Linked DNA regions of Homo sapiens. The protein of the gene in region 1 interacts with the protein of each later gene in a pairwise test. Each region holds a gene or a part of one and is shown in the gene's direction. Other genes may lie near its edges.

Evidence for each region.
Region 2: the proteins of LRRC25 (region 1) and CNIH3 interact in binary tests that used the Homo sapiens proteins (3 or more experiments, as listed by UniProt).

Annotation. Positions count from the first base shown.
Region 1 is NC_000019.10:18,390,597-18,394,625, reverse strand, and holds the end of LRRC25 (leucine-rich repeat-containing protein 25 precursor), read left to right. Parts: intron 1-2,500; coding exon 2,501-2,639; 3' UTR 2,640-3,489; downstream 3,490-4,029. UniProt on the Homo sapiens protein: Plays a role in the inhibition of RLR-mediated type I interferon signaling pathway by targeting RIGI for autophagic degradation.
Region 2 is NC_000001.11:224,724,288-224,731,330, forward strand, and holds part of CNIH3 (protein cornichon homolog 3), read left to right. Parts: intron 1-1,636; exon of another isoform or gene 1,637-3,578; intron 3,579-6,010; exon of another isoform or gene 6,011-6,174; coding exon 6,175-6,287; exon of another isoform or gene 6,288-6,305; intron 6,306-7,043. UniProt on the Homo sapiens protein: Regulates the trafficking and gating properties of AMPA-selective glutamate receptors (AMPARs).

The DNA of each region.
Region 1 (4,029 bases):
TACTAAAAAATACAAAAATTAGGCCGGGCACGGTGGCTCATGCCTGTAATCCCAACACTTTGGGAGGCCAAGGCAGGAGGATCACGAGGTCAGGAGTTCGAGACCAGCCTGGCCAATATGGTGAAACCCTGTCTCTACTAAAAATACAAAAATTAGCCGGGCATGGTCGTGGGTGCCTGTAATCCCAGCTACTTGGGAGGCTGAGGCAAGAAGAATCACTTGAACCCAGGAGGTGGAGGTTGCAGTGAGCCCAGATCGCACCACTGCACCCCAGCCTGGGCGACAGAGCGAGACTCCGTCTCAAAAAAAAAAAAAAAGAAAGAAAGAAAGAAAAAAAGAAAAGAAAAGCTTTTCTAGGTTGGAAAAGGGAATGGAGGGAATTTCAAGGGGTGGGACCCTCAGGGGCAGAGACCCAGAGGTGGGAAAGAACAGAGAATTTGCTGTGAATGGTTTTTGAGAAGGGATGACTTGAAAGCTGAGGCCTGAGGGGAACAGGGAGGGCCAAGCAGGAAGGGGCCGCGGCCATGGCTGTGTTTGGGCAGCAGAGTCCGTGCCAGGAGGTGGGGAGGCTATCGGAAGGCTGTTGGTGAGAAAGGAGAAAATATGCAAAGCAGATGTCAACATGGCTCAAAAGCAGAAATGGTCTGAGGCAGGGTGTTGAAGACACTGGACTCGCAAAAGCAGCTTGTGCTCTGATGTTCATCTTGGCCTCCCTGTCCCCGAGGCTTCCGGATCAGCCTCCTTTATGTACTGGCCTCCAGAAACACTGTGTTTAGAATTGACTGTGTCATTTCCACCCTGCATCTTACAGTTACAGACATGGAGGCTCTGGGAGGCAGGGAAATGACTTGTCCAAGGTCACATAGCCAGTCAAAAAAGGCAGGACACAAACCCTGCGTCCCAGACCTGTTCGTCCCCCTACAACCACTTAGGGGTTGGTGGGCAATTCGTACTAGAGTATAATTGACTGATAGATGCTGTTAACACAAAGTAGCCCTTTTGCCTTTTTTTTTTTCCCGCTCTGTCGCCCAGGCTAGAGTGCAATGGCATGATCTCGGCTCACTGCAACCTTCACCTCCCGGGTTCAAGTGATTCTCCTGCCTCCTGCCTCAGCCTCCCGAGTAGCTGGGATTACAGGCGCCCACCATCACACCCGGCTAATTTTAGTAGAGACGGGGTTTTGCCATGTTGGCCAGGCTGGTCTTGAACTCCTGACCTCAGGTGATCTGCCCACCTTGGCCTCTCAAAGTGCTGGGATTATAGGCGTGAGCCACCGCACCTGGCCCAGTGGCCCTTTTTACAAGAGGAGCTGGGTTGGAATTAGAATGTTCAGGAGGCAGGAAAATTCTCTGGAGGTCTTGCTGACCATAACAAATATTCCTAAGTAGCTACCTGCTCCTTGACCAATTCTATAGATGCAGAAACTGAGGCTCAGAGACTTGCTTTTATATATGAGGGCCACAAAGTCAGTTGCTTCAGTGGTGAAAACATTTCCCATCGGAAGGAGCACAGAGTGTGGGTGCAGCCACTTGTGTGCATGTGACTGACGTGGCCAGAGCTTCCGATTTTTCAAGAGGAAACAAAAATTTAGATTTTAATGTAATAATGAACAGCTACCTCAATTTCTGTTTTTTTTGAGACGGGGTCTCCCTCTGTCATCCAGGCTGCAGTGCAGTGGTGTGATAACGGCTCACTGTAGGCTCGACCTCCTGGGCTCAAGCGGTCCTCCCACCTCAGCCTCCCGAGGAGATGGGACTCCAGGCACACGTCACCACGCCTGAATAATTTTTTAATTTTTTGTAGAGATGGGGTCTCACCCTGTTGCTCAGGATGGTCTCAAACTCCTGGCCTCAAGCAGACCTTCTGCCTTGGCCTCCCAAAGTGCTGGGATTACAGGCATGAGTCACCGCGCCTGGCCGCTATCTCATTTTTAAGGAAGGAAAAAGGGTTCAGGGTCCTCAGACCGCAGCGTTACACCCACAGAACCTTCCCTAAATCACTGCCCTCCCGCAGCCTCCTCAGAGAGAGGTGGGGTTGGCTAGGAGTCAGAACGCTAGCCCGTGCCAGTTTCCCCATATGTAAATATTCGGGGTGGACTGAGCCACTCTGAAGCTTTCTTTTTTTTTTTCCTTCTGAGATAGAGTCTTGCTCTGTCTCCCAGGCTGAAGTGCAATGGCACGATCTCGGCTCACTACAACCTCTACCTCCTGGGTTCAAGTGATTCTCCTGCCTCAGACTCCCGAGTAGCTGGGACTACAGGCCTGTGCCACCATGCCTGGATAATTTTTGTATTTTTAGTAGAGACGAGGTTTCATCATGTTGTCCAGGCTGGTCTTGAACTCATGATCTCAGGTGATCCACCCACCTCAGCCTCCCAAAGTGCTGGATTACAGGCGTGAGTCAGAGCACCTGGCCCACTCTGGACTTTCTCAAAGCTCATGTGCCTGTCCCCTGAGTCCTCCCCCTCCCACACTTACCCCTGGTCTGTCTGTCCCCCCAGGGCTCACCCTTCAGAGGACAATGACTTTTACATCAACTACAAGGACATCGACCTGGCTTCCCAGCCTGTCTACTGTAACCTGCAGTCACTGGGCCAGGCCCCAATGGATGAAGAGGAGTACGTGATCCCCGGGCACTGAGCCTAAGATGTCCTAACCTCCACCCAGAACCCCTTCAGTCCCTGCTGGGTGACTCAGGGCGTCCTAACGCCTCCATGGCCTCAGTTTCCCCATCTGAAGAATGGGTACAGGAAAGGATTGTCCTTGAGGCCCCAGGAAGCTCTGCCGCCCCCTCCCTGTCCCTCATGCCGCTCCTCAGCTCCCTCAGCTCCTAGAGGGGGAAGAGGAGAGACCCCCAACAAGGGGACAGGACGGTCACTGTGCCAATCCTGTCATCACCCTCCTGTGGATGTACAGGCAGTGCTCAATAAATGCTTCGAGGCTGATGAGGCTGCTGGCTCAGGGTGCGTGGGTTCCTCAAGGTGGGGATTTCTGAGTTCTAAGACCAAGTCTCCATCTGAGACTCCCAAATTGCTCCCCACCTCCCATCCCTGTTTTTTTTTGTTGTTGTTGTTTGTTTGTTTGTTTTTGAAACTGAGTGTCACTCTGTCACCCAGGCTGGAGTGCAATGCTGCGGTCTCAGCTCACTGCAACCTCCGCCTCCTGGGTTCAAGTGATTCTCCTGCCTCAGCCTCCTGAGTAGCTGGGATTACAGCACCCGCCACCATGCCGAGCTAATTTTTGTATTTATAATAGAGATGGGGTTTCGCCATGTTGGCCAGGCTGGTCTCGAACTCCTGACCTCAAGCGATCTGCCCGCCTCGGCCTCCTGAAGTGCTGGGATTACAGGCGTGGCCACTGCGCCCAGGCACATTCCTCCCTTCTGCCCCTCTCAGGGCCCCTTCCCAGGTCCCTGATCTCCAGGCTTGGCCTCCAGAGCAGCCCACACCAACCCCAAAATAAAAAAATGTATATATTCCTTTAGCTCTAATATTCTGAGAAAATCTTTCAAGACCCTGGTGCAATGCCACCTCCTTTGAGAAGCTGTCCCTGGTTTCTTCTCAGGCAGAGTTAATGACTCACAGATGTCTGTATTTCAAGAGTTTTTTCAGGCTCATGCCTCAACTGGGTTTCCTATCAGCTGGTCCCAGCCCAATCCTCCAACCTGGGGGAGATAGAACTAGAGACAAGTACCCTCAGTCCTGGGAGATCAAGCCTGGGCCAAAGGGAAGAATGGGAGCACAGTCCCCACATGGAGACAATTGAATGAGTTTGAATAAGGCTGCATGTAAGAGGGGAATCTGCAGTGGGTTTTGAAGGATGCATAGGAGTTTGAGAATTGGAGAGGAAAGGGCATGCTGGCTGGGTGGACCAACTTGTGCAAGAGCCTGGAGAAGCACAGAGAAGGCACAGGCCCAGCCCTATACCTTGCAAAGGCAACAGCTGTTGTTTGGGGAAAGACTCAGTGACACCATCTGCTGCCTTTTGGTATTGAGTTTAATTTTGAAGCCTCCTAGGTGCCCATTTTCAA
Region 2 (7,043 bases), on another chromosome or scaffold:
TTGGCTGCTAGTCCCTGACACAGCAAGGCCTATGGGGCTGGGCAGCCCTCCTGGATGCCCAGGCTGGTGCAGGCTTTCCAAAGACGACCTTCATCCAGAGTGATTAAAGAGCATGTGGCCTCCTGAGAGCAAAGGGGCCCAGAATGTAGTTTCCTGACATTGCTTGGAGATGCTCACGTGCATGATTATTCATTTGGGAACAAATGGAGAATGATCTCCATGCTGGGAATACTGACTTCGTCCGGGGCATCCCAGAGGGATCCTCTGTTTTAGGGCCAGTTTAGTATGGGCTGAGGAATCAAATAAAAGATATAGTATCTTTTTCTCCACACTCTTTGGCTCCTGGGGCAAATAAACCTTAGGGCAGACACACAGAACTGGATTATTGCTGTTGAAAACAGGCAAGGATTGAGGTTTTTTATGATTTGAGAGGCAGGCTGTTGAAACAGCCCTTGGTTTCTCTTCCCACTTGAGGAAGCTGGAGCTTGGTTCAATCAGAGGGAGTCAGGAGACTGAATTGAAAAATCAGGAAACCAACTCTGGTTCTGGGTCATTTCATTGACTTTCACGGTAAGAGCAACAAGTTATCTACCTGAGAATGGTCATCATCTAGTATATGATTATTAAAAATAATAATGACCGGCCAGGCATGGTGGCTCATGCCTGCAATCCCAGCACTTTGGGAGGCCAAAGCAGGTGGATCACGAGGTCAGGAGTTCAAGATCAGCCTGGTCAATATAGTGAAACCCCCATCTCTACTAAAAATACAAAAATTAGCCGGGCATGGTGGCACATGCCTGCAGTACCAGCTACTCGGGAGGCTGAGGCAGGAGAATCACTTGAACCTGGGAGGTGGAGGTTGCAGTGAGCCAAGATCGTGCTACTGCACTCCAGCTTGGGTGACAGAGCAAGACTCTATCTCAGAAAAAATAATAATGATAATAATGATCACAACACAATAACAATAGTGGTGTCTTCTTTTGCTGGAGGCTTCTTCACTTTTGAGAGCACTGTCATTCATAGTACATCCTGTGTCCCTGGCTGGTAGGTATGGCATTTTACAGATGGGTAAAATAAGACTCAGCATGGGTAGCTGCTTTTCTAAATAGCACACAGTTGAGTATTATGTAACTGTAGGAATTTATATAATGCTTTGAGACACTGGGCTAATATATTGAGACTTATGGGATTACAGCTGTAAAGCTTGTTGTCTGAGTCGACAGGGGCATTCAGAGATGGGTAGAGACTCTGAGTCTCACAGCTTCTACTGTCTTCAAGATAAACTCAGTGCCAGGAGCTTCCCTGTGGCTTCCATAGCTGTGACTTTTAAAGTGTTTGGTCCCAGGCATGCTGACACCAGCCCCTCAGAAAACCTATGCCCTTGGAATGCATGATGAGAGCCAGGAGCAGACGGATCTCCAACAACAGGGGCGCTTGCTGCCTCTTCATCTCCCTCATCTTCTCCCTTCCCCTGGTCTTAAGGAATCCCTTTTCTCCACCAGGAGCATTATTCCCTTGCTTCAACTCCAAGCATCCCCTTCCTACTTCTTTTCCTTTAGGGGTAAGAAGAATCTCTCCCACAACCCCTGATGCCCCTCTCCACCACAGTAGTAAAAATAAGACAGGACTTGGCACACGATTCTATTGTTTTCATAATCTATAAAGGGTACCAATCAGCTGCAGGTCATTGATGGGATAAAACAGCAAACAAATGGATACATGAATGAATGAGAGGATACATAACTAGAAATAAAATATTTAGAATGCAGACAAGTAAAATTCCTGGAAAAACAAGATTGTGGACAATGGCTTACAGCTGAGCTGAGCATGGCATATACTGCTCTGTTGGGTGGAGGGCACATGTGTGCAGGGATGGAAACCTGCTAGAAGGTTCTTGCACCAGCCTGGAGAGGAGGTCCAGGGGCAGGATAAATAAAAAGGAAGGAACAAATGCAAGTGGCTGTGAAGAAGCAAGATTTGGAAACAGACTTACATGGAGACTGATGAGAAGAAGGAGTCAGAGATGGTATGGTTAGTAGAAGTTGGAAATTTAGGAGATAAAGTTTGCAGGTACTGATAGGAATGTGAATTTCAGCACAAAGTGGTTGTGGGATATCCAGGTGGAAATGTTTGCCAGCAAATGAAAATTGACTATTAGCATCTGGGTAGGAAGTCAGGACAGGTGGAATACAGTTAGCGTTTACACAGTCCTTACCGGTTATCATTAATGTCCTTTAATAGGGGCCCTTTGAGGTGGCCTTGTTAAGGAGCCACCCCAGACCAGTGACTTCCATCTCTCTATGCTTTTGCTTTCACTGTTCCACTTCTAGGATGCCGACCTCTGGTTCCCATAAGTGATTAGGTTTTACTCGCCCTTTCCAACTTCCCTTTGATCACAAACCTTCCATGATCCCCCTGGTTGGAATGAATTGCAGTCTTTCAGTAATCCCACAATACTTATATTGAGATTTAGGATTTATGACTCTAGAAAGCAGGGTAATAATACATGGCAATTCAATAGGCTGTGGCTTGCATGAAATAGTTTCTCCATTTGTTGAAAGAATGAGATTGGCACCATTCAACAGCTTCTCTTATTAAAAAAAAAAAAGTGTTTTCCAAAGCTAAGGGATGACTCAGGGTCATGGGGCTGTGGTGAGCGCTTGCATCAGCATCTCTGTATTTTGCTTAGAAGCTTTAGGGGTGGTCCTTATATAACAGACACTCTCAGAGTTGGGAGGGAACGCCTGGTCTGACTGCCCACACAAATGAATGAGCATTATGCCTGCCTGGTGGTTATTCAGCCCCTGCCCGAGCATGTCCGGTGACAGGGAGCTGTGTCCTGCCGGCCTCGATGGCTTGTTAAGGAAGGGCTGAGTGGATGGTTGGGGGAGGATAAACAGTGAAGAGCACAACTTTGCTTTTCCCATTGATTACTCAGTCTGGGGCTTGCTGATGGTATCATATGAGATAGGTTAAATCATGCTATGGCAAAACAACAACAACAACAACAACACTCAACTCTTGGCAGCTTAAAACAACACAAGTTTCTTTACTGCTCACACTCTAGTCCATCATGAGTTGCCTGGGGGCCTCTTTCCTTACTTGTGGCTTCAGGATGATGGAGTACCCACCATCCTAAATGCTTTTTGCTTTGTCAGAGGAAAAGGAAAAGAGACTCTGGAGAATTTTGTATCAGCCGTTAAGTGGTCTGGCCTTCTCTCCACATCACTTCTGCCCACAGCCCATCAGCAGCCCCAACCCCTGAGAGCTGGAAAATGAGACCTTACCACCTTCCAGAAGGCTGAGTGCTGGGTGTGAGTGGAGGCAGCCATAATGGCTATGGTGCAGGCCTCATGCAAATGGCCTGGCTGATTTCCATTTGGTCTAGAAGGAAGAGGTTCCTTACCTCTTCCACATCATTGTGACAAGAAGCAGCTGGTGAAGTAGGCAAGGATCAGTGTGTGTATCAAAAGGTCACTGTCACTCCTAAAAGTCTCTGGATTAATTGGAGGAGCCTCTTCTACTTGTAAGGATCCTGTTCAGTGTTCTAGGCATAAGAGGTCATCTAGAGAAGCCACCTGAAATGGCAGAATAAATTCTTCAGCTTTTTTCCCAACCTCCAAAAGGCTGGAGACCTCCGTGACTAGCTGGCCTGCATTAAGCAGTTTTCCTCTACGTGGAGACAGTGATGAATCCTCCCTGCTTGGAAGGTTGCAGCCTCCACAATAAATCAAGCCCCAAAGAGAGAAGAAGCAGTGGTGATTAAGAGTGGGACCTGAAATCCAAACTGTAATCAGTCAGAGATTTGTCATTGGAATTGGAGATGGAGATGGAGAAATAATGGATGATTCAGGCCCACGGTGGCTGTCTCTAAACATGTTAATTGCCTCAGCTTAAGTGGCTGAAACTGATGATTAGAAAATGTAGAGATGTGCATAGCAGAACTCACAGCCACTGCCTCCCGGGGCTGGCGCACCCAGCTCTGAGAAAGTGGGCTTTCTCTTTGAATGGGAGGGGGTAGGGTGATGCCTTGGCTGGGGGTAGATAGGATTGGTTATCACAGCTCTGAGGTCCTATAAGGAGATACAATAGGGACATGGCGTGCCCCCTCCTGCCAGGTGGTTGAGATTCACAGGGGCTGGTGGTACCTGCTTCACCCACCAAGGGTCACCACCTCTGGAATGATGGCTCCTTTGCTCTGATTCCTCAGGTGATTGCCTGAGAAGTCTAAGGTGAGGGTTAATGCAATTCATCTACACTGGACTTTGAGAATAAAGAAGGTGCCCCATAGTTACAAAATGTCTTACACGTGTGCTGTGCATGTCTTTATTTTTAATGTGTGCGTATGTGTTTCTCCCTCTGTGTCTGCCATCTGGGGTAGTTAGCTCATCTAACTAAATTGAGAGACCAAAGTCATGGTCCATACCCAAATGGGATGGTTTGAGGGAGTTTGTTCTCCACCCAAAGAAATCTTAGTTTGTAACCACAGGCTGCATATCTAATGCCAGCCAGCCATGTTGTAAACATATGCACTTGGTCATTTCAATGCACTTTACCACGTATTTGTTAAGTCTCTCCTAACTGCCATGCATTGTACAAAGGCGCTTTGCAAATGGAAATGAGAAAAGAATAGACGTTGGCTAAGATGGCTTGCAGAATGCTGGACAGAGGAATCTATCTGTATTGGAAGGTGGGAAGAGGATGATGACTCCACAATGGATAGATTATGGAAAGTACCCCTGGGAGGGGGTCAGAAAACATGCTGTGGGGCCCAGAGGTACAGGGGAGGGTGGAGGAACAAGGGACGGTAGGCAGAGCTCCCAATAGAAAGTGTCATTTGAGGCTGGGGACGGTGGCTCGTACCTGTAATCGCAGCACTTTGGGAGGCCGAGGTGGGCAGATCACCTCAGGTCAGGAGTTCAAGACCAATCTAGCCAACATGGTGAAACCCCCTTTCTACTGAAAAATATGAAAATTAGCTGGGCGTGGTAGCAGGCGCCTGTAATGCCAGCTACTTGGGAGGCTGAGGCAGGAGAATTGCTTGAACCCAGGAGGCAGAGGTTAGAGTGAGCCAAGATCACGCCACTGTACTCCAGCCTGGGCAACAGAGTAAGACTATGTCTCCAAAAAAAAAAAAAAAAAAAAAAAGGTAAGTGGCATTTGAGATGGGCCTTGAAGGATGTTTCAAAAGATTTTGATGGGAAGAACAAAGTATTCATGAGAGCCTAAACAATACAAAGTATATTTATATATTATATAAATAAATATATTTAGTAATATGTATCTATATCTCCCTATATAACTGGGTAAAATGGTGCATTTATATCTGTAGCCTTCCCTACTGCTGGTCTAGGTGCCAAATTTCTTCCTTACAGTTACCCTTTAGCTTACAACTTTGATTTCTGATAAAATGAAGTTACCCTTGGGAGCAGCTTTTCAATGATTTTAAGCTCCTTTTACCCATTTATACCTGTGTGGCTGGATTGGAGGTGGGAGAGCTTAGTCTTCCTGCTGGTCACACTTCCCACCATCAGGCCTTTCTTGGTCAGGATCAGTTTCTTCCCTCTTCCCCCAGAGGCTACACTGTCCCTCTTCATCATTGCTAATTGTTGTTTTTCTCGCGTTCCTCTTGCTCCATCCACCATCAGGCAAAATGCCACTGCCTTCTGAGGCTGGCCATTTTTTCCTGACCCTCCTATATTTGTGATAAATGTACATATTCACTTTAGGTTTGTGAGTTACTATAGGAGGATACACAGGGGCCAGAAAAACAAGAGCAGGGCAGTTATGGATTCATTAGAAACCCTTGCAGTATTTCTCCTAGTGGTCCTGCCTTGGGTCAGATGACACATGGGCTGGACCAGCTCTTCCAGTCTTCCCAGTGGCCATCCATGGGTGACCCCTAGGAGCAAGCGTGGTATTCTGTTAATAGTAAGCAGTGCACTGAGGGCTTGTGTCATTTGGGTTTGGGTATAATAAAAAGAGGAGTGCCATAAAAAGAAGAACTTACCAGAAATGGATCTGTGTTGGGGCAGTGGCTCTACGTTGCTGCAGGGAGGGCCTTTGTGTCAACCGTCTGTGAGAGGCAGTGTCCAGGCAGAAGTCAGCTGCCATAGAAGCAGGAGTGGCGTTTTCCTCCTCTAACTCAGGGCCGTGTCTCTGCTCCCTCTTCAGCTGGTGCTGCCAGAATACTCCATCCATAGCCTCTTCTGCATTATGTTCCTGTGTGCGCAAGAGTGGCTCACGCTGGGGCTGAATGTCCCTCTACTTTTCTATCACTTCTGGAGGTAAGTCAGACTGGGACTGGTATATCCTTCGTCTTTTCTGCCAGGGCAGCCTGCTCTCCAGTGATGATGTCACCCAAATAGACAGCTTCTATTGCCTTCCAATCATCCCTTCCTTTCTGGGTCTCTCTCTTTAAAGCCTGTTCCCAAACTGCTCTTAGGCAACAAGTCCAATAAGGAAAGGCCCTTTTTGTTGGTTTCATTAACCACAACCCCATCCCTTGTAGGTCAGTGTTAAAAGCATCTATAGTTGCATTCACAACAGCCAAAGAGTGGAACCAACCCAAATGCCCATCAGCTGATAAATGGAGAAACAAAATATGGTATATCCATACAATGGAATACTATTTGTCAATAAAAAGAAATGAAGTACTGATACATGCTACAACATGAAGCCCTAAAGAAAGTATCAGTGAAAAAAGCCAGACACAAAAGGCCACATATTTCATGATTCTATTTATAGGAAATGTCCAGGAAAGGCAAATCTATAGACAGAAAGTAAATTCATGGCTGCCAGGGGCTGGGAGGGAATGAGAATAGGGAATGACTGCTAATGGGTCAAAGGTTTTCTTTTTAGGGTGATGAAAATGTTCTGAAATTAGATAGTCATGATGGTTGCACAACTCTATGAATATACTAAAAACCACTGAATTGTACAGTTGTACACTTTAAAAGGGTGACTTTTATGGTATGTAAATTATATCTTAATAAAAAAAAAAGCACCTACCAGATGGGCTGGATTTTCTGGGACAGTTATAA